3 linked regions of the Homo sapiens genome follow. The protein of the gene in region 3 interacts with the protein of the main gene of each other region in a pairwise test. Each region holds a gene or a part of one and is shown on either strand. Other genes may lie near its edges. The genes, in order: FAIM, RASAL3 and CDR2L.

Region 1 (3,749 bases), on a different chromosome or scaffold from region 3:
TTGATAAAAAGAGCTTGTACCTCCCCGCTGTCTCTCCTGCTTTCTCTCTGGTCACATGCTCTCTACACAGCCAGCTCTCCTTTGCCTTCTGCCATGAGTAGAAGCAACTTGAGGCCCTCACCAAATGCAGATGCCCAATCTTGAGCTTCTCCAGACATCAGAATCATGAGCTAAATAAACCTTTTTTCTTTATAAATTATGCAACCTCGGGTATTCCTTTGTAGCAGCATGAAAGAGACTGAGACTTCTCATTGTTCCCTTCCCCCATTCCCAGGGAACATCTAATCTGCTTTCTGCCTCTACGAATGTCCCTTTTCTGGGTATTTTATATAAGTGGAATCATATTTGTCATTTTTTGTCTGGCTATTTTTTTTTTTTTTTTTTTTTTGAGACGGAGTCTCGCTCTGTCACCCAGGCTGGAGTGCAGTGGTGCGATCTCAGCTCACTGCAAGCTCCGCCTCCCGGGTTCACGCCATTCTCCTGCCTCGGCCTCTTGAGTAGCTGGGACTACAGGCGCCCGCCACCACGCCTGGCTAATTTTTTTGTAGTTTTAGTAGAGACGGGGTTTCACCGTGTTAGCCAGGATGGTCTCGAACTCCTGACCTCGTGATCCGCCCGCCTCGGCCTCCCAAAGTGCTGGGATTACAGGCGTGAGTCACCGCGCCCGGCCTTGTCTGGCTATTTCACTTAGCATAAAGTTTTCATAGTTCATCCATGTTATAGCATATGTCAGAATATCACTCCTTATTTTGGCTGAATGAAAAGGAATATCCTTTGTATATATATGCATTTTATCACTTCTCAGCCTTTTGGCCGAGATCAAGTGTATGTACCGCGTTTTGTTTATTCTTATGTTGATGGACAACTTGGGTTGTTTTCATCTTTTGGCTATTGGAAAATGCTACAATGAACAATAGTATACAGGTGTCTGAGTGGCTGATTTCAAAACTTTTTGAGTGCATTCCTAGCAGCAGAATTGCTAGGTCATATAGTAATTCTCTGTTTAGGTTTTGAGGAACTGTCATATCATTTTGTATGACAACTTCACCATTTTACAGTCCCACTAGCAATGTACAAGGATTCCAGTTTTTCCACATCCTTGCCAACACTGATTATTTTCTGTTTATTTTTAGTATAGCCATCCTAGTAGATGTGAAGTTGTATTTCATTGTTGTTTTGATTTGCATTTCTGTCGTGATTAATGTTGTTTAGCATCTTTTCATGTGCTTATTGACCATTTGTATGTCTTCTTTAGAATAATGTCTGTGGAAGTCCTTTGCCTTTTTTTTTTTTTTTTCCTGGAAACAGGCTTTTGCTCTTGTTGCCCAGGCTGGAGTGCAATGGCATGATCTTGGTTTACTGCAGCCTCCGCCTCCTGGGTTCAAGCGATTCTCCTGCCTCAGCCTCCCGAGTAGCTAGCTGGGATTACAGGTGCCTGCCACCACACTCGGCTAATTTTTTGTATTTTTAGTAGAAATGGGGTTTCACCATGTTGGCCAGGCTGGTCTCGGACTCCTGACCTCAGGTGATCCACCCGCCTCAGCCTCCCAAATTGCTGGGATTACAGGTGTGAGCCACTGCGCCCGGCCCCTTTCCCATTTTTAAATTGGGTTGTCTTTTGTGTTTATGAGCAGTAGAGTTCTTTATATATTCAGAATATGAAACCTCTATCAGATATATGATTTCCAAATATTTTCTCTCATCCTTGTCCTTTCACTTTCTAGATAATGTCCTTTGATGCACAAAAATTTTAGTTTGTTTTTGTTTTTTTGAGACAGGGTCTATTCTGTTGCCAAGGGTGGAGTGCAGTGGTGCAATCACAGCTCACCTGCAGCCTTGACCTCTCAGGCTTAAGTGATCCTCCCACTTCAGCCTCCCATGTAGCTGGGACTACAGGCATGCACCACCATGCCTGGCTAGTTTTTAAATTTTTTTGTAGAGATGGGGTCTCCCTATGTTGCCCAGGCTGGTCTTGAACTCCTGGGCTCAAGCAATCCTCCCACCTTGGCCTCCCAAATTGCTGGGAATGCGGGTGTGAGCCACCACACCCAGTCAGTTTTAACTTTTGATGAAGTTCAATTTATCTATTTTTTTCTTTTGCTGCTATCCTTTTGGTGTCCTATCTAAGAATCCATTGCCAAATCCAAGATCATGAGGATTTACCTCTATGTTTTCTTCTAAGAGTTTTGTGGTTTTAGCTCTTACATTTAGATCATTGAGATAACTTTTGTATATGGTGTGAGATAGGTGAGGTTCAACTTAATTCTCTTGTGTATGAAAATCTAGTTTTCCCCATAACATCTGTTGAAGAGACTATTCTTTCCCCACCAGTTAGAGTTGGCACCCTTGTCAAAAATCATTTGGCCACAGATATGTGGATTTATTTCTGAACTCTCAAATTCTTTAAGGACAGAAACATTTTCTTCAGGCTGGGCATGGTGGCTTATGCCTGTAATCCCAGCACTTTGGGTGGCCGAGGTGGGAGGATCACTTGAGTTCAGGAGTTTGAGACCAGCTGGGGCAACATGGTGAAACCTCATCTTCACAAAAAATTACAAAATTAGCTGGGTGTTGTGGCACATGCCTATGGTCCCAGCTACTAAGGAGGCTGAGGTGGGAGGATTGTTTGAGCCCAGGAGGTCGAGGCTGCAGTGAATTGAGATCGCACCACTGCACTCCAGCCTGGATGACTAGAGTGAGACCCTATCTCAAAAAACAAAAAAAAAGAAGGATTTTCTTCAAATTTCTGACAGCGTCTAGTACAGTATCTCTTGATAGCAGGTTCAAATGTTGAATGGAAAAACTGAAGCCTGGACATTTATCATAAGAAAACTTTTGTTGTGAAGGTACATCTCCCCTTGAGAAAACAAATAGAGCATAGCTGCTGCAAATCATACAAAACCATAGAAAAATTTAAAAGACATGTACGACCAGGTGCGGTGACTCATGCCTGTAATCTCAGCACCTTGGGAGGCCAAGTCAGGTGGATTACTTGAGCCCACAAATTCAAGACCAGCCTAGGTAACATGGTGAAACCTCATATCTACCATAAATACAAAAATGAGCCGGGTGTGGTGGTGTGTACCTGTAGTCCCAGCTACTTTGGAGGCTAAGGTGGGAGGATCCTTTGGGCCCAGGAGGTTGAGGCTGCAGTGAGCATTGAATATACCATTGCACTCCAGCCTGGGCAGCAGAACAAGACCCTGTCTCAAAACAAAAACAAAAACATGTACAGATGCTTCTTGACTTGTGATGGGGTTATATCCCAATAAACCCATTGCAAGTTGAAAATATTATAAGTTGAAAATGGATTTAGTACACCTAACCTATCAAACATCATGTCTTAGCCTTGCCTACCTTAAGTGTCCTCAGAATACTTACCTTAGCCCACATTTGGGCAAAATCATCTAACACAAAGCCTATGTTACAATGAAGTCTTGGCTGTCTCCTGTAATTTTTTGTACTGTAGTGAAAGTGAATGGTTGTATGGGTACTCAAAGTATGGTTCCTACCAAACACGTATCTCTTTTGCACCATCTTAAAGTCGGAAAATCATTAAGTCAAACCATTATAAGCCGGGGACCATCTGTATTTGACTTTGGAGTGCTTTCAGAACATTTGGTGGGCATTTAACTATTTGTTGAGTTAATGGATTACATTTGCTCATTCTGATATTACTTTGTATAGACCATCCAGAGAATCACCAGTTACGAAGAAGTAAGTTGACTTTTGTGTGAGGATATTCTCAA
Region 2 (3,749 bases), on a different chromosome or scaffold from region 3:
GCGCGGTGGCTCACGCCTGTAATCCCAGCACTTTGGGAGGCTGAGGCGGGCGGATCATGAGGTCAGGAGATCGAGACCATTCTGGTTAACACAGTGAAACCCTGTCTCTACTAGAAATACAACAATTAGCTGGGCATGGTGGCGGGTTCCTGTAGTCCCAGCTGCTCAGGAGGCTGAGGCAGGAGAATGGCGTGAACCCAGGAGGCGGAGCTTGCGGTGAGCCGAGATCGCGCCACTGCACTCCAGCCTGGGCAACAGAGCGAGACTCCATCTCAAAAAAAAAATAAAAAAAATGCTGGGCCCTAGGCTAGTGTTACATTCCTGAGCCCTAATTCTTGTGATATCCATTACTCTTCTAGATCCCCCTGTGTGACACTTAGCACCATCTGTCATTTTTTTTCTTTCTTTTTTTTTTTTTTCTTCCATTGAGATGGAGTCTCCCTCTGTCGCCCAGGCGGGAGTGCAGTAGTGCAATCTCAGCTCACTGCAACCTCCACCTCCCGGGTTCAAGCGATTATCCTGCCTCAGCCTCCTGAGTAGCTGGGAGTACAGGTATGTGCCACCATGCCTAGATACTTTTTTTTTTTTGTATTTTTAGTAGAAACAGGGTTTTGCCATGTTGGCCAGGCTGGTCTCGAACTCCTGAGCTCAGGTGATCCACCCACCTTGGCCTCCCAAAGTGCTGGGATTACAGGTGTGAGCCATCATGCCTGGCCCATCTGTCATTTTCTTGTTGATGGATTTCCTGTCAATTCCACTACACTGTGAGCTCCATGGGGCAGGGAGGGTCATCTGTCTCTTTCACTAGTGTGTCCTCAGTGCCTAAATCAGGGCCTGGCACATACAATAGAAGCTCAACAAACCTCTGCTTGAATAAATGAATGAATATGAGCAAATAAAATTATATACTCTCCAAAATGGAGATCATTATTCTCACTGAACTGATGGAGAGGCTGAGGCTTAAGGGCTCAGAACAAAGACACGGAAGCTAGAAGGTAGGAGAGTAGGAGGCAGGCTGAAGATGGATATCCAGGTAGGAAAGGATGGGCCTGAGCCATTGAAGGAGAGACCCGTTGGGGCCAAGAGCCGTTTAGCCTCTGGACAATACTATCACGGGTTTACATTCACTGTTCCTTCCTCAGATGGACCCTCTGCCCACAGGACCCCGGCAACTCCTCCTACCCTCTTTAGGGGGAAAGAGGGAACAGGGTAGCTGGGCCCCAGCGGCTTCCTGCTGGGCTTTTGCACTCCCCACAACTTCCTGTGTCTGTATGGTTGATGCTCCGGAGGCAGACAAAACCCAAGCATCCGGCTTCCCAGCCCGGCCCAAGCTCAGGGTGGGGGAACCATGTACCTGGGGCCTCCTGCTCCGGCTCCGGGTCTGGCTCCGGCGGTGGGTTCTTATGCCTCCCCCAGAGGGCCTTGGAGAGTCGAAGGCGACTGGTCCGTGACTCCTTGGGAGGCGCAGATAGGACCCGACGGAATATCGAGCGAGGGGCTGGCTGGGTGCTGACCATGGGCTCCTGGTGGCTCAGGGCCCTGCCCCAGCCAGCAAAGCGGCCCCAGCGGAACCCTCCAGCCGCCTTCTCCCCACCGCCCCCTGTGTGCCAGCGGTAGGAAGTCAGCGGAGAGGTGGCTGTGGGCTGGGTTTGGGAGGTCCGGCTTGGCGACGGTGGGTCCATGGTTGGGGGGGGGGGTCTCCTGGGGGACGAGAGAGTGACAGTAGTGCCCAGTGTCTGTCCACATACTGCCCTCATCTCGGCCCCCTCCCCACCCTCAGCTCTGCCTCCAGGAATCCCCCTGCCCCCACCTCCACTCCCTCCCTTACCTTGGTTTCCTGACCAGCCCCAGAATCAGCAGCCGTCTGCACCCCGCCTGGCTTCCTCCCTCGGAACCCAACTCCACGTGACCCTCTCTGTCCCACCCCACCCCACAGCCAGGCTGGGAGGGCACAGTGCGGGCAGGTTGCTGGAGGTTCGAGGGAGGAGAAGAGAGGAGGTGGGTTACCAGGCTTCTAGCAAGAAGGACCCAGACTGCCTCCCTGACGGGGAGGCAGCACTTGCCCCTCTCTCTGAGCCTCCGTTGCCTTCTCTGCAAAATGAGTACAGGCTGAACAAATGCTGGCGAGAATACAAAGCACCTAGAACTCTAATCCACAGTTGGCCGGAGTGTAGACCCATTCACTCATGTTGGGAAACGGTTTGGCAGGATCTACTAACACTACTAGCTGGATCTTCTCTGACTCAGCAATTCCATTGCTAGGTAGACGTCCAATAGATATGCCCCCCCAGCACAATGCATAATAGCCCCACATTGGAAGCAGCCTAAGTACCCATTAGTGGGAGAAGGAATAAATTGTGATCTCTTCGCACAGCAGAATATCATACAGCAGTGAGAACAAACTAAAGAATGATTTAACTTGGGTGAATCACAAACAATGTTGAGCCAAAACCAAAACCAAAGCCATAAAATGCCAGTAATCTGAGCTATTCAGGAGGCTGAGGGAGGAGGATCGCTTGAGGCCAGGAGTTCGAGGCTGCAGTGAGCTGTGATCATGCCTGTGAATAGGCAGTGCACTCCAGTCTGGGTGACATAGGGAGACCTCATATCTAACTTTTTTTTTTCTTTTTCCCCTCCCTGCCCTCGGGAGACCCCATCTCTAAAAAGCAATAATAAATAAATTTAAAAACCCCAAAACAATGAAGAGTATACACTTTGTGATTCCATTTACATAAAGTCCTAAAGCAGGCAAAACCATGTCTAACAAGCAGGGTATCAGTTTCTTTTGGAGGCACTGGTGGCTGGGAAGAGGGTACAAGGGGGGCTTCTGGAAGATGGCAAGATTTATTATTACTCTTATTATTATTAATTGATTTATTTATCGAGAAGGAGTTTCGCTCTGTCTCCCAGGCTGGTGTGCAGTGGCACGATCTTGGCTCACTGCAATCTCTGCCTCCCGGATTCAAGTGATTCTCCCTACTCAGCCTCCTGAGTAGCTGGGACTACAGGTATTCACCACCATGCCTGCCTAATTTTTTTGTATTTTTAGTAGAGACGGGGTTTCACCATGTTGGTCAGGCTGGTCTTGAACTCCTGACCTGAAATGATCTGCCCGCCTTGGCCTCCCAAAGTGCTGGTATTATAGGCGTAAGCCACCGTGCCCGGCCCTTATTATTATTATTATTTATAAATGAGGTCTATAAAAATAATATAGATCTCATAAAATAAAAATATAATATTTATATTACATAGTAATATAAATAATATTACATTATACATAATATGAATATTATTATTTTTTGTAGATGAGGTCTGTCATCCAGGCTGGAGTGCAGTGGTGCCATCATAGCTCTCTGTAACCTCTAACTCCTGGGCTCAAGAGATCCTCTCGCCTTAGCCTCCTGAGTAGCTGGGACTACAGCTGCATGCCACCACACCTGGCTTATTAAAAACAATTTTTTTGTTGTTGTTGAGATGAGGGTCTTGCTTTGTTGCCCAGGCTGTTCTTGAACTCCTGGCCTCAAGTGATCCTCCCACCTCAGCCCCCTAAGTAGCTGGGATAATAGGCACATGCTACCATGCCTGGCCTATTTTTTTTTTAATTGAGGTAAAATTCATATAACACAAATTTAGCATGTTCTTTTTTTTTTAATAAGATTTTTTTTTGAGACAGGGTCTTGCTCTGTTGGCCAAGCTGGAGTGCAGTGGCACAATCACAGCTCACTGCATTCTCAACCTCCTGGGCTCAA
Region 3 (3,749 bases):
CACAATGGCGTCAGAGTGAGGGGTTCTGCAGCTGTAGGCCCAGCAACGGGGACAGCAGAGACTTAGAAAGGTTTATGCCAAGGCCCTTTTGAGCTGGAGGCTCCCCAGGAGAGGGAGGGAAGAAGGCATTCCAGGGGGAAGCGATGCTTGTACCAAGTCATGGAGCGACATGAGAAGGCTGGAAAATAGGGAGGGAGGGGCTGAAGGAAGCATCAGACACGGGTTCTGTGGGGCATTCCCGTGGGCCCTGCCCGCCCTGTGCCCCAGGGGCCAGGCATGGAGAGCTGGATGGTGGGACGGAGCACGGGCCAAAGGCCAGCCATATTGGGTGTCAAAGGCCTGTTGCATCTCCCAACCCACAAATTCTCTTCCACCCAGCTGCTCCCTGGTTGCCTGTGAGTGGCCCAGAAATGGTTTTCTCAGCCAGCCACCTGGTCTTCCCTCCTGTCTGTTTCCTCCTGCCCAAAGGGCAGGCCCTGATTCCACTTTCCAGAAGCTTGACTGTAGAGATCCTGTTTGGCTTTGATGCTCTGTCCTGGTGGAAAGCAGCCGTGGGACAAGTGAGGTCCTAGATTCTCGCTGTGTTCCCTCTGCCCACTGCCACGAGCATTTATAAAAATAGAAAAAGCCAGCTGGGCACAGCAGCTCACACCTGTAATCCCAGCACTTTGGGAGGCCAAGGCGGGCGGATCACCTGAGGTCGGGAGTTCGAGACTAGCCTGACCAACATGGAGAAACCCCGTCTCTACTAAAAATACAAAATTAGCCAGGCGTGGTGGCACATGCCTGTAATCCCAGCTACTCAGGAGGCTGAGCCAGGAGAATCTCTTGAACCCAGGAGGCAGAGGTTGCAGTGAGCTGAGATAGCTAGCGCCATTGCACTCCAGCCTGGGCAACAAGAGCAAACTCTGTCTTTAAAAAAAAAAAAAAAAAAAGCCTAGAAAGAGCCGGGCACGGTGGCTCACGCCTGTAATCCCAGCACTTTGGGAGGCCGAGGCGGATGGATCACAACATCAGGAGATCGAAACCATCCTGGCTAACACAGTGAAACCCCGTCTCTACTAAAAATACAAAAAATTAGCCGGGCGCGGTGGCGGGCGCCTGTAGTCCCAGCTACTCGGGAGGCTGATGCAGGAGAATGGTGTGAACCCGGGAGGCAGAGCTTGCAGTGAGCCAAGATCGCGCCACTGCACTCCAGCCTGGGCGACAGAGTGAGACTCTGTCTCAAAAAAAGAAAAAAAGAAAGAAAAAGCCATTAATTATTAAGCACTGGCACTCCCTCTTTCGGCCCACATTCCTCCCCTACCTTGGACCAGGCGTGGCAGGCCCTGTGCGTTCCTCTTTCCAGGCTGAGAGGCAGCTGCTGAGTCACAGATTTGAAGTCCTTGGTACCCGTGCTGTCCCCGCCTGCCTAGCTGACCTTGAGTCCTCAGCCTCAGGAGAGCTCTGACCTGGCAACGGGAGGGAGGTCCTGCCTCCACCCTGGTTACCCCAAAGGTGACCTGACCCTGATTCTGTGGACCCAGAGTGGCTGACAGTCGTGCCCTGGAGCTGAGAACAGGACCTCACAGCCCTGCCAGGTGGTACTTGTGTCCACAGCCTGGAGCCCACACCCCTACCTTTGTCCTCCCTGAAAATGTCCCCTCTCCCTTTGCTGAGTCTCTGCTCTGGAATCTGTGGTGCCCGAGCCAGTGAGGGACAGTGGGATTTCTAAGTTTCTTTTCAAAGACAGGCCCTGGGTTCCCCAGACATTCCTCCTCAGGCCTCTGGGGCATTGCTTCATGTAAAACCACTAAAACCTCCTGAAGGAGACCCCAGAAAACCCTGGGGTCCAGGCAGGGGAGGTGCCAACCCAGACTTAATGTTGTTTTTTTTTTTTCTTTTGACCTGCACAGTTCAAACCCATAGCCCAGACTTAGTACCTTCCCTCAGCTTGGTCCGGTGTGTCCCATTCATCCAGCTGTGACAGGTTGTTACTCCACTTTCACTTCCTGTCTAGCCAGCTCCCCCATTCTCCCGTTCCCAGGCCTCTCTCCTCTGAGCCTGGAGCCATCACCCACCCTCTGGTAGCTGGTGTCTTCTCCCTAGTACTTGGCTCCACTCAGTTCCCTGCTCTGCAACTTCTAGACTATTCCCTGATCCCTCCTGGCAGCTTTGACCAGCTTAGCTTGCGCTGTGATCCAGTTTCCCTAAAATGATCTGAGACCTGCCTCTCTGCCCCCAAACAGCTTCTATTGTGTTTCTCTTTCTACCTGTCCCTGAATCACTAGGTGGCCCAAGTCGATTCACTGCCTTCAAAGGGCAACCTTTGATGTCTCTGGTTTATAGGGTGGTATACCACCCTGGCCTGCCAGCATTAGAAATCTACACACAGCCCAGACACTAACCTGGAAGTGGGGGGTATGATGTTGCACTGCACTTGGCCTTTCTTCACTCACCTCTGATGCAGTGGCTTTGCACTCTAGTTAAGCTGCAGGGGCTCCATGAAGGCCACTTACTTGGAGCATGTCCTCCGACACCCACGGCAGGAGGTAGAATCAGTAGCAATGGCCTCTTTGCAGACCATGTAACAGTTTCCAAGGGGGAAAACATTTAGGAGAGTAGCCCTCTGATCTCTTTCATGTATATCTGAACTGCTGGATACTGTTCAGGATGAGCTAAATTTGAGTCCCACTATGGAAAACAGGAAGATAGCATGGCTGTCTCATCACAAACTGAAGGTGATCTTGCCCGGCTCCTGAGTCCTGAGTTACTGCCATGCGCACAATATAGTACAGGGCTGTAGTTCAATCTTTTTTTTTTTTCAAGACAGAGTCTTGGTCCATCGCCCAGGCTGGAGTTCAGTGGCACAATCTTGGCTCACTGCAACCTCCGCCTCCCAGGTTCAGGCAATTCTCCTGCCTCAGCCTTCTGAGTAGCTGAGATTACAGGTAAGCACCAGCACGCCCAGCTAATTAATTTTTTTGTAGAGACAGGGGTCTCACTATGTTGCCCAGTGCAATGATCTTTACATCAAACTTTACAATTTGTAGATACCTCCAGACTTTTGCCCAACTGACAGGTCATAAATTCATACAGCATATATCCGCATTCCCTTACTAGGTTTATGTTATGTAACTAGTTTTTTCTTGGCATCCTCATCAGAAGGTTAATTGCTCAAGGCTAAAAGTTCTTACCTATGATTTACATGATTTGGTTTCTTTGTTGTTGTTGTTGTTTTCAATGGCTGAGGAAGATGTTTGGGAAAGCTGCCTTTGTTTTTTCAGGCTAAGTTACTGCAGCCTTGCTCTAGGATAGCAGCTTTGCACTCCTTCTCCAGATGACACAGGGCCCTCCTTTGGCTAAAACCCAGCCCTGGAGGCTCCACTTTGGCTGTTTCAAAACCTCACCTCTGTGCACAGGATCAGACTCCGGATTTGTTCCTGTGGGGCAGTTCAGCCTTTATGTCCAGGCCCAGTGGCTGGTCTGGCCCCTCTGCCTCTCACAAGGCAATGTCAGTTCTGCCCCCAGCTTGGCTGAAGGCCCAAGGCTCTGCCCTCAGCTGCCCACCAAGAGTCACTGCTTGCCTGGGCTCATCCCAAAGGAAAACTTCCACCCCAGGTCTAGGTTTCTTTTCAAAGACATCCCTTGGGCTCCCCAGCTATTATTTCTCAGGCCTCTGTCCAATGCATAGCAAGGGCTCAGCCGAAACAACCGTATCTAGGAAACTTTCTGTCCGGGAGTATAGAGCCTATCCGTCCTCCAGAGAC

What was found.
Region 1: the proteins of CDR2L (region 3) and FAIM interact in binary tests that used the Homo sapiens proteins (3 or more experiments, as listed by UniProt).
Region 2: the proteins of CDR2L (region 3) and RASAL3 interact in binary tests that used the Homo sapiens proteins (3 or more experiments, as listed by UniProt).

Annotation. Positions count from the first base shown.
Region 1 is NC_000003.12:138,611,731-138,615,479, forward strand, and holds part of FAIM (fas apoptotic inhibitory molecule 1), read left to right. Parts: intron 1-3,749. UniProt on the Homo sapiens protein: Plays a role as an inducible effector molecule that mediates Fas resistance produced by surface Ig engagement in B cells.
Region 2 is NC_000019.10:15,462,677-15,466,425, forward strand, and holds the start of RASAL3 (RAS protein activator like-3), read right to left. Parts: upstream 1,869-3,749; 5' UTR 1,829-1,868; intron 1,702-1,828; 5' UTR 1,683-1,701; coding exon 1,355-1,682; intron 1-1,354. UniProt on the Homo sapiens protein: Functions as a Ras GTPase-activating protein. Plays an important role in the expansion and functions of natural killer T (NKT) cells in the liver by negatively regulating RAS activity and the down-stream ERK signaling pathway.
Region 3 is NC_000017.11:74,990,491-74,994,239, forward strand, and holds part of CDR2L (cerebellar degeneration-related protein 2-like), read left to right. Parts: intron 1-3,749.